Homo sapiens: one gene and its partners. The protein of the gene in region 2 purifies or fractionates together with the protein of the main gene of each other region. This does not show direct contact. Each region holds a gene or a part of one and is shown on either strand. Other genes may lie near its edges.

The links.
Region 1: the proteins of FAM32A (region 2) and DUSP22 purify together in Homo sapiens (co-immunoprecipitation; one large-scale study listed by IntAct). This does not show direct contact.
Region 3: the proteins of FAM32A (region 2) and ZNF346 purify together in Homo sapiens (co-immunoprecipitation; one large-scale study listed by IntAct). This does not show direct contact.

Annotation. Positions count from the first base shown.
Region 1 is NC_000006.12:330,454-334,100, forward strand, and holds part of DUSP22 (dual specificity protein phosphatase 22), read left to right. Parts: intron 1-3,647. UniProt on the Homo sapiens protein: Dual specificity phosphatase; can dephosphorylate both phosphotyrosine and phosphoserine or phosphothreonine residues. Activates the JNK signaling pathway.
Region 2 is NC_000019.10:16,188,393-16,192,676, reverse strand, and holds the end of FAM32A (protein FAM32A), read right to left. Parts: intron 2,158-4,284; coding exon 2,104-2,157; intron 1,791-2,103; coding exon 1,722-1,790; 3' UTR 631-1,721; downstream 1-630. UniProt on the Homo sapiens protein: Isoform 1, but not isoform 2 or isoform 3, may induce G2 arrest and apoptosis. May also increase cell sensitivity to apoptotic stimuli.
Region 3 is NC_000005.10:177,025,584-177,029,230, forward strand, and holds part of ZNF346 (zinc finger protein 346), read left to right. Parts: intron 1-3,647.

The DNA of each region.
Region 1 (3,647 bases), on a different chromosome or scaffold from region 2:
AAAGAACAGTGAATGTTAGAAATCATGCTTGAAACAAGCGAGAGTTTGATCTCTTTCTTTACCAGTCGTGAAATCAGAACCTTGGCCCTGCTTTTCAGGGACCTGCCTCCGTATCGTTTTAAGTGTAATCTTTAGTTTCAGGCCCAAAGAAAGGTAAAAACCTTACTTTTGGTGGTTACTATACTTGTTGAAACAGAAAACTGAAAAGTATTTAGAACTTTTGAGAAGATGGACTCAGGCAGCTCTAAGCTCTGGTTTGAAGAGCCGCTGGAAAACCTTCTGAACTTTCTTCTCCTCCAAGTGACGTCTGTTGTTTCTTTCAAAACCTAAACACAAAACCTTCACTAGAAAGCTGTCCTTAGCAGATCCCCCATCTCTCCTGCCTCTTTGCAGCATCTTCCAAATTTTTACATCACGTGGTTTTATACCGGTTGTTCTATACTAATTGTTTTATACATGCTGCTTGGCGTTAGTAATATACGGTGTACACCTGGTCCCCTCAACACAGGTAGAGACTGTTCCTTACTTCTTCCCCCTTTTCCTCTCCTGGTACTCACTTCGTCATGTTACGCCACTTAAAATGCCATCATCGCTGCTCTTTCTTTGTCCTCATAGAAATCATGACGGTCTTGAAGCAAACACAGAGCCCATTTTTCTTAACTGAGCTTGTTTTTGTATTTCAGTGTACTCGAGATTGAAGCACCGTAACTTGACGTTTAATAGCCTCATAAAACTGTGATGTTAATTGGCTTTCCACCAATCCACTGTTTTGGAACATCGTGGAAAGTGCTGAATTCTTATTTATTTAGTGAGACTTTTATTGCTACAGGAAGACAACCCATTTTATCTTTACTTTTTCAAATATTAGAGGTAGTATGAGGGAGTGAATACCTTACAGCAAACACTGTACTAATGGAAACATTGCTGTTATCTTCATTACTTACAAATTTTTCAGATTGTTCTAGAATTTTTATTGCTTTTTTTTTAACCTCCAAGTTTGTTATACTTTCCATAATTTATCTAAACTTATCCTGTCCTTTATTTCTATTTCTGTAAACTTCAAAACCGGAGAGTGGTCCTGTCTTGAGGACCTATTTGGTGAAACCATCTATTCCACATCACATTAAAACATTTGCAGAACTTATTCATTAGTACTAGGATACTTTTAAGTGGGCCAGCTTTCTTGTGGCACTGGGGGACTCATGCTGCTTTCTGAATTAGTAATTAACTGTCATGAATTGTACACATGTGCAGGTATCTGAAGCTGTTCTAAGGTAACTCAAATTCTGTAGTCTGTGGCTTGGGAGAGACTTTTCATGCTTTGTTAATAACTAAACCAAGATAAATAGATGTTCTTAGGTGGCGAGCAGCTGAACCTTTTTGACAGTTTTGACTCCTTCCTTGACTGAGTTTGCATATTCTTATTGTGGATCACGCCGACTGGCTCTCAGCTGCGTCCTGTTGCAGTGGCCAGGAGGGACGCTGGTGTCCCTTGAGCATGTGTGGGTGGCTTGCTGTTTGCATGGTGTGGGCTGAAGCCCAGCTCTCGTTTCGTGGTCACTGGCACAAATGATGGTGCTTTACAGTATTTTTCTTTCCTTGCACTCATCTGGCAGTGTGATCTTTGTGTTCATTGTTCTCATCCTCTGTCTCATCACTCTGCAGACATTTCAGTGAGTGCCTGCTGTGTGCCGGGCACCCTTGCAGGGAAGCTTGTTATCATTGCTGTTGTCATTCTGTCTTCAACAGAATATAATCTTGACTCAGGTTTTCTATTTTTATCTGTCCTGCCTTAGCAGCAGGTGGTCCCCAAATTGTGGTTGGGAGCCATTTTGTTCCTCTTCAGAGGATTCACAGATGGGAGGCTGCAGCTCCACACGCCCACCCCAGCGACTGTGGGCAGGGGCCAGCATGGCCAAGAGCTGCCTCCTCATCCTGGTGGTTCCCAGATGGAGAGATAGCCTTTGCCGTCTTCCTGTGGGTAGATTCTCGTGCCCACCTGACAAGGTGCTCCTGCCTCATGGGACCAGCCTGAGTTGGTCCTTTTGCTCATCGGGTGCCACAAAGGGGAACACAACCACACATGGAGACTGCCCATAGGAAGCACAATACTGTCCAGTCCCACGGCTGGTATTTATAGCCAGCAAAGAGCTATTCAGCAGACCCTCTGTCCATTCTCTTCCTGTCCTTCTTTTTTTTTTTTTTTCTTTCCTCTTGATATATAGACTAGGCTGATTTTAGATTCTGCTGGAATAAAGTGGCTGTCAGTCAACATCTGGGGGACGCCGGCATTTCCATCTCGTCTTAAGCTTCCTTGCCAGATGGAAGTCGCTGACACTGAAGATGGCACTAGAAGGGAAGGTGGGAACTTGAGGCTCCTTCTGGTCTGTCTGGAGGTGCTGGTCTCCAAGGAGCGTGGAGGGAGAGTGTGGGAGGAAAGGATTTCACAAGCTTCTGGACTGATCGACTGCCAACTCTCACTTAAGAGTAAAAGGAAAGAAGTGAATGAGTCATTTCAATGGTGGCTGCAGGAGGTGATCAATGTATGTGCATCTATACCAACAAGCTTGTTTGGCCTCCACGAAGGAAAGGACTGAAATTACTTTTAACAATAATACTTCCTTTTCCGTTTGTTTTCCCTTGAAGTCCGAGCTGTAATACCACTCTAGGTTTGAAGATACTTTCAGTGTTCCCAGCAGAGCACAGCCCACAAGCCCAGGAGAAATGAGGACAGAGACAGGAGGAGGCAACTGGGGATAACAAAGTGAAGGCAAAGGAGGGAGAAGCTGCTGCCTCACTTTCCTCTTCCACCAGCAGATTCTAAATTAACCCTTGGCATGGTTGAAGCCCATTTGGTCTTAAGTGAGATGTTCCCATGTGGATAAACAGCAATAAAGTTCATCTCCTTCAAGACCCAAAAGGGCCTTTATTGGAAGGTGTAAAGATTGATTTAAAGCTGGAAACAAAATGTACAGAAACTGTGAGGGAGAAAACGTTTTTGATTCAAAGCATACAGAAACTGTGAGGGGAAAGATGTTTTTCTGACCCCTCATCATTGTGGATGAGGCAAGAGGGAATTCTCTCACTTAGGTGTTAGTTGCAGTGAACAGATCCTGCTCTGACTCAGTTTCAGCAGGAAACAGCTTTTACTAAGAGAGACTGAAAGCTCATGGTTCCCTCAGAATAGATGGAGAACAGGTTTTAGGCTGAAGTTCAGGAGTGATCCCCAGAAAACTGGCCCCAAGCTCAGCGCCCACTTTGCCCCGAGCCAGCCCACCCCTGCCCCACCTGCCCCGCAAAGAGCATGTGCTCTGCCCCCGCCCTGCGCCCACGAAGCCCACGTGTGCTTCCCGGATCCCACTCAGTAGCTGCCGATCCGACTCCTGAGGGCCAGGTGGGGAGTCCCTAATCGCGAGGGAGGTTGGGACATGAAGTGTGTCTGGTGCCTGTATTGGAAAAGTAGGACTCACAATGTCAGGGGCTATTAAAATGTGTAGGAGGTGTGGAAGGATTAGGGGCAGCTACACATTTAGTTGTCCCTATTGGCAAATACAGCACAGAAATTCCTAACAATAGGAGTTAATGGTAAAAGTTTAATTAAAAATGCAGAAATTATTTGTGACTAATTACTGAAGATGCGTTGCGTT
Region 2 (4,284 bases):
TTTTAAGCCACTGCCTTTTGGAGCCGTTTGTTATGCAGGGAAAGAGCTGAAATAACTACCTTTCCACTATACTAATAAAGGGTTTCCACAGTAGTACATAATGCAGACTCCTGCTGCTAGCTTGTGGAAGGAAAAGGTCTGAAACTGTCTTTCCACCAGGCCATGGGAGAATCACTGGCAAAAGCCACTGCTAATGAGAGTGTGTGTCATCTCTCTTAGGTGTGAACCATAGGCGGGAACAGATGTGCCATCGAAATTTTTCCACCTGAGTTGCCGTTTTCCAGTATGAATATTTTTCTGTGCCACAAATCCAAAAGACATTTTGGTGACAAACAGCCTATAAGAGGACACTCAGCACTTTGGGAGGCTGAGGCGGCAGATCACTTGAGGTCAGGAGTTCGAGATCAGCCTGGCCAATATGGAAAAATCCCGTTTCTAACTAAAAATACAAAAATTAGCCAGGCGTAGTCGCGGTTGCCTGTAGTCCCAGCTACTTGGGAGGCTGAGGCAGGAGAATCACTTGAACCTGGGAAGTGGAGGTTGCAGTGAGCCAAGATTATGCCACTGCACTCCAGCCTGGGCAAGAGAGTGAAACTCTGTCTGGGAAAAAAAAAAAGAAGACACTCAGACTTACAATAACTGACTTTTGCTTTATTGTGTAATTTACACAGGACAACCCCAAATTCCACACTTCGTTTTTCTCTTCTGCCTTCATTATTCTTTCAATATCTACGTCAACAGAAATCGTTTCTCCCAATAACATATGTGGTTTGATCCTCAGCCAGGACGCACAGGCCCTACAAGATCCCAGCCCTCCAACACGGACACCTGGACCCTCCCATTTGACTGCAGCCTTGTCTGTTTGTACCGGGGCTCTGCCCTGGTCCTGTCACCCCTGAGACGTCCGTAAGGTAGGAATGCCAAACAGGATCTGTGTGATGTGTCAACTCTGAGTAAATACAAGAGGCTGCTAGGAGCCCCCAGCTGAGGATTGAGAGGCAGGCTGTGTCTGGTTCCATTTCAAAGAATGCTGTGATGCATTAGCAGCGTCTGCTATGGCAACACCCATTAGAAGCACCTGGAAGGGGGGTTTTGGGAAACGGGCTCAGAAAGGAGCAAGGTGTGTCCGTTCCATTCTTGCCTTAGGTGGCTGTTCCGTTACCCAGGCTATGCTGTCTCAGTGGCCAGGTGGCTGAGGAGGAAGTCTGAAGGCCGCATAGTTGCAAGTGGCTTCCCTAGGGCCTGCAGGGGACAGCATAGGCCCAAAGCTAGAGGAAGCTTGGAAGGGCGCCCACGCTGGGTCCTGCGGGGCTCTGCATACTGCAGGCCACCATGGCGCTAGCTCCTTACCCTCTGGAGTCTGTCTCATCCAGGAGAAGACAGCTGGCTGGCCTCAGAGCGTTACATGCAACTCGGGTGAAAACATTTTTACATGACACAGACACACAATGGGCTTTACCTCTGGATAAACTTAGAAACTTTCCATCCAAACGAAAAGGGTGTATCTTCTGTATGTTGCCAAGAAGCCTAAACTGAGTACAAGGACGATCTTACTTTAATCAAGTTCCAGAATGAGGGTACACAGCTTCGAAAAGCAGTCTGTAGCAGAAGATGCAAGGGTGTGTGTAGCCATGTTTCCAGAATATACCAAAGGAAACACACACAACCCCAGTGTGGCCTTTTGCGAACCCTCGATGCTGCTCCATACTGGGGGCAGGCGGCTACTTCGTCCAGCTGACTTTGGGAATGTCGTAATGCTCCGTGAGTGTGTCCAGGTGTCTGTTGAAGTCCTGGGGAGGTGGAGTAGAAGGCCGGTGTCAGCGCAGACCCAAGTGGGGTACTGGGGAGAAGTGGCACTGCCCAGCCCCACCTCTCCCACATCCTATCTCTCCTGAGCCCCCTCCTCTCAAACTCACCCTGCCAGGTCTTACAGACTCCTGAACCCTGGGCTCCCCTTTGAATAACCCTGGGGAAGTGTCACTTCTATTAGGTAAACTTCCCTTCTCGTCAACATGCCAACAGCTCCCTCTGCCAGCTGATAGCCTCTGGGCCCAGCTGGGACCCTGAATGGCTCAGTCTCCCCCACTGGACACGGCGACTCACCTCCACTCTCTGCTTGTGGGTTTTGGATGCCTTCTTTAGGATCCTTTCCATTTGCTGGAGAGAGAAGAGACATGGAGGTGAGTTTACAGGCTCAACACAGCCCAGGCTGGCATGGGGTGGAAGATGGAGCCTGGCCAGACTGGCTCTCACATTTAGAACAGCTGGAGGTTTCAGGCTCTGTGCCTTGTCCCCCTCCCTCAACTCCACCCAGGCTGGTCCAACAGGGAACCCAGGTCACTTGCCAGCTTCGTGAGTGGCAGGAAATGAACCAGCAATGCCTGAGCGCGTACCCATGAGCAGACTCTGCTGGGAGCTGTCGGCATGCTTCCTGCATCCTGAGGAGGCTGTTAGCACTCCCAGTTTGGAGGAAAACAAAGTCCCAGAGCGGGTTTCAGGAATGATGAGAAAGAGAGAGGTAAAGGGTCTGACATAGAGCAGGTGCTCAAGTGACACTTCCCATCCTGATGTTAGGGCTACAAGACCAGGATCACCATCCCCAGGGTTATTCTGAAATATGCCTCCTGCACCATGACCTGCTCTGATCCTCACTTCAAACACTCAATGACACCTGGAAAGGTCAGTATCTGGTAGCAGCTGGGAGTGTGGGCTGGGCGCGGTGGCTCATGCCTGTAATCCCAGCACTTTGGGAGGCTAAGGCAGGAGGATAGCTTGAGCCCAGGAGTTCAAGACTAGCCTGGGCAACATAAGGAGACCCCAACTCTACAAGAAAATCAGCTGATTTTGGTGGTGCACACCTGTGGTCCCAGCTACTCAAGAGGCTGGGGTGAGAGGACTGCTTGACCCAGGAGGTTGAGGCTGCAGTGAGCTATGATCACACCAATGCACTCCAGCCTGGGTGACAGAGAGAGAGACCCTGTCAAAAAAAAAAAAAAAAAAAAAAAAAAGAGTTGGAGTGTGGGATATAAAGCCAGACAGATCTGAGGCCACACCTGGCTCCACACTTCCTGGCTGGGTGACTGTGGCCCACTCTTTGGTGGCCCCTATAACTGTGCTGCCTATGATTCATCCCTTGTGCAGTCCCCATGCCACACTGACTCTGACCTGGCCGTGGACTCAGTTAACTCGAAGGAACACAGTACCAGTTCTGGGTCCATGCATAAGACCTGGCAGCATTAGCTTTGTGCCCTTGGAAGCCAGTTGCTGTGCAGGAAGTCTGATGGCCCTGCTGGAAAGAAAGGACCTGGAAGATGAGATGACATGAAGGAAGAGGCCACGAAAGAAGCACTGAGAGGTGGGGCATGGCGGCTCATGTCTGTAATCTCAGCACTTTGGGAGGCCAAGGTGGGAGGATCACTTGAGGCCAGGAGTTTGAGACCAGCCTGGCCAACATGGTGAAACCCCGTCTCTACTAAAAATACAAAAATTAGCCAGGTGTGGTGGCATGCGCCTGTAGTCCCGGCTACTTGGGAGGCTGAGGCAGGAGAATAGCTTGAACCCGGGAGGTGGAGGTTACAGTGAGCTGAGATCTTGCCATTGCACTCCAGCCTGGGCAACAGAACGAGACTGTCTCAAAAAAAAAAAAAAAAAAAAAAAGAAGCACTGAGGCACCAGCTATATGGCGACAAAGCCATCTTAGATGCTGCAGCCCAGCTGCACCTTCAGAGACTCCAGGCCCAGCTGCCATCTGACCACACCAGACTCCAAGTGAGGTCAGACCCTGCTAAGCCCAGTCAACCCAGAGCATCATGAGATATTATTGGTAGGGGCCACCTGGCTGCTCCTCTCTGTCCCCCCCTTCTCCTTCATTCCCTCACCTCCTGTGTCCAGTCAGCCCTCACCTGGCTGATTCTCCCTCTAAGGCGAGTGCCCTGCCCATCTCTGTCCCTCTTCCTGCTGCTGTGAGCCCAGCCAAAGCCTGTGTCTCCCTGTGAGAAGCCACACTGACTTGTCCAGCTGCCACACAATGCCAGGCACCTGGCTGGGCTCTGCCCACAGGCGTGACACCCAGCTACTATTTTAGTTTTTGAAGAGACAGGGTATCGCTATGTTGCCCAGGCTAGTCCTGAACTCCTGGGCTCAACTGATCTTCCCACATCGGCCTCCCAAAATGTTGGGATTACAGGCATGAGCCACTGTGCCTGGCTGACTCCACTTGGATTTCTACTGGGGCACTGCATTTACCTTCTTTAAAACTATAGCTTTGGTTCCCCCTCCCTCAAC
Region 3 (3,647 bases), on a different chromosome or scaffold from region 2:
TAGTGGGCATGTAGTGATATCTCATTGTGGTTTCCTAAAGACTGATAATACTGAGCAACTTTTCAGGGGCTGACTACCCATTTGTAGATCTTTGGTGAAATATCTATTCACATCATTTGCCTATTTTGTAATTGGGCTGTTTGTCTTCTACTGAGTTGTAAGAGTTATCTGTGTATTCTGGGTACAAGTCTTTTATTATAGATATGATTTCCAGGTATTTCCCCCTGACTGTGACTTGTTTTTTCATTTTCTAAACAGTGCCTTTTGAAGCACAAAAGTTTTAAGTTTTGATGAGATTAAATTTATCATTTTTTATCCTATGTATTGTGCTTTAGTGTCATATCTAAGAACTCTTTATCTTAACCCAAGATTTGAGAAATTTTCTCTTGTAGATCTTCCTTATTATTATTATTATTTTTTTTTTTGAGATGCAGTCTCACCCTGTCACCCAGGCTGGAGTGCAGTGGCATGATCTCAGCTCACTGCAACCTTCGTCTCCCTGGTTCTCCTGGAGGAGGTCAAGCGATTCTCCTGCCTCAGCGTCCCGAGTAGCTGGGATTACAGGTGTTCACCACCACATCTGGCTAATTTTTGTATTTTTAGTAGAGATGGGGTTTCACCACGTTGGCCAGGCTGGTCTCAAACTCCTGACCTCAAGTGATCTGCCCCCTTCAGCCTCCCAAAGTGCTGGCATTACACGCGTGAGCTACCATGCCCAGCCCCTTCCTCATCTTGTTTCTGAAGGAGTTTGTGAAGGATGGATTGGTAATTTTTTTTTTTTTTTTTTTTTTTTTGAGACAGAATCCCACTCTATCGCCCAGGCTAGAGTGTGGTGGCACGATCTCAGCTCACTGCAGCCTCCCTGTCCCAGATTTAAGTGATTCTCCCGCCTCAGCCTCCTGAGTAGCTGGGATTACAGGAGGGTGCTACCACACCCAGCTAATTTTTTTGTATTTTTAGTAGAGACAGAGTTTCACCATGTTGGCCAGACTGGTCTTGAACTCCTGACCTCAGGTGATCCACCAGCCTTGGCCTCCCGAAGTGTTGGGATTACAGGTGTGAGCCACCACACTCAGTTGGTAATATTTCTTTTTACAGTATTTTATAGAAGTGTTGACCTGCAAGGAAGAGGCTAACACACAAAATATGATTTGAAGAGTTTACTTGATTTTTAAAGGCAAAAAAATGTGGACAGGGAGTGGGACTCATACAAAGTTGTTTATCAAGAATTCTCATTGATTTACAGAAATAACATTGGTTAGTGATTGGCTGTACATTAAGCTGTAGGATGTAGGATATAGCGTCAGGTAGGGCATTATTAGGTTAATCCTTACCCACTTGTGGCAATAGCAAGCAGTTTTGATAGATGAATCTTAGCTCAAAAAGGGAGAATAGGAAGTGATTGCTATCTCATTTTAATATCTCTCTGGGCCCTGATCATTTAAAAAAACTTGGATTCTTTAGATAAAAGTTATCTTCTTTTTTTTCAGACAGAGACTCACTCTTCCGCCCAGACTGGAGTGCAGTGGTGTGATCTCGGCTCACTGCAACCTTTGCCTCCCGGGTTCAAGCGATTCTCGTGCCTCAGCCTCTCAGGTAGCTGGGATTACAGGCGCCTGCCAGCACACCCAGCTAATTTTTGTATTTTTCGTAGAGACGGAGTTTCACCATGTTGGTCAGGCTGGTCTCAAACTCCTGACCTCAGGTGATCCGCCTCAGCCTCCCAAAGTGCTGGGATTACAGGGGTGAGCCATCACGCCCAGCCGATAAAAGTTATTTTCTGACCTGCCTGGGCAACGTGGAGAAACCCTGTAAATTTTTGTAAAATTTGTGTTTTTGTAAAAATACAAACATTAGCCAGGTGTGGTGGCTCACATCTGTAATCCCAGCTACTCAGGTGGCTGAGGCACGAGAATCGCTTGAACCCAGGAGGCTAAGGTTGCAGTGAGCCGAGATTGTGCCACTGCACTCCAGTCTAGGCAACACAGTTGAGACTTTGTCTCAAAAAAAAAAAAAAAAAAAAGTTATCACCAGTGAAGCTACCTGGGCCTAAGCTTTTCTTTCTTCCTTTCCTTTTTTTTTTTTTAAATTCTCTATTTATTTATTTAGAGACAGGGTCTCTGTTGCCCAGGCTAGAGTGCAGTGGCACAATCATAGCTCACTGCAGCCTCAGACTCCTTCAAACTCAAAGCTAGGACTGCAAGGGCATACCACCATGCCCAGCTAATTTTTGTGTTTTTTTAAATAGAGGGTCTTGCTCTGTTGCCCAGGCTGGTCTGAAACTCCTGGCCTCTAGTGATCCTCCTGCCTCAGCCTCCCAAAGGGTTAGGATTATAGGCAAGCATGCGCCATGGCACCCAGCTGGCTTCGGCTTTTCTTTGTGGAAAGGTATTTGATTATTCATTTTCTTTACTTGTTTTAAGTGTACACAGAATATTTTGTTTCTCCTTGTGTCACTTTTTTTTTTTTTTTTTTTTTTTTTTTTTTTTGAGACGGGGTCTTGCCAGGCTGGAGTGCAGTAATGATCACTGCAGCCTTCGCCTCCCAGGTTCAAGCAATTCTCCTGCCCCAGCCTCCCGAGTAGCTGGGATTACAGGCATGTGTCACCATGCCCGGCTAACTTTTTTGTATTTTTAGTAGAGACGGGGTTTCACTGTGTTGGCCAGGCTGGTCTTGAACTCCTCGAACTCTAAAGTGATCTGTCCGCCTCTGCTTTCCCAAAGCACTGGGATTACAGATGTGAGGTCCCTGATTATTTTCTTGGTTAGTCTAGCTAAGAATTTGTCATTTTCTTGATCTTTTCTAGTTTCTAAGGTAAGATCTTATGTTGCTGATTTGAGTGATTTGAGATCCTTCTTTTCTGATGTAGATGTTTAAAATTATAAATTTCTCTCTTAAGCACTTGTGACGTTTTATATATATATATATATATATATATTTCCCTCCATAGTTCCTGGCTCACAGCTTCTATAACCCTTGTACTTTCCTCAGTGACTAAAGCAGTAAGAGTATCTTCTGTTAAAATATTTGGCCTTTTGTCCTTGCTTCCTGAAACACCTCTGGAACTGCTCCAGAGCAAGAAAGGTGAAAAACAGACTTTTGTTATTTATAACAAGCCCCTTTCTTTTTTTTTTTTTTTTTTTTTTTTTTTTATGAGATGGAGTCTCGCTCTGTTGCCCAGGCTGGAGTGCAGTGGTGCGATCTCGGCTCACTGCAAGCTCCGCCTCCCAGGTTCATGCCATTCTCCTGCCCCAGCCTCCCAAGTAGCTGGGACTATAGGCGCCCACCACCACACCTGGCTAATTTTTTGTATTTTTAGTAGAGACGGGGTTTCACCATGTTAGCCAGGCTGATCTCGATTTCCTGACCTCGTAATCTGCCCTCCTCGGCCTCCCAAAGTGCTGGGATTACAGGCGTGAGCCACCGCACCCGGCCATATAACAAGCCCCTTTCAGCCACACCTTGGTACATGTTAATAGGGTGATTTTTGAGAAGTCCCTAGATTACCACATTCTGGTTGGCTGGTTGCCATAGGAACCAACCATGTGCTCAGAGGCTTGGAAGTTACAGCCCCCCATCTTGAGAGGGTAGAAAGGAGCTGAAGGTTGAATTGATCACCGATAGCCAGTGATTTAATCAACCATGCC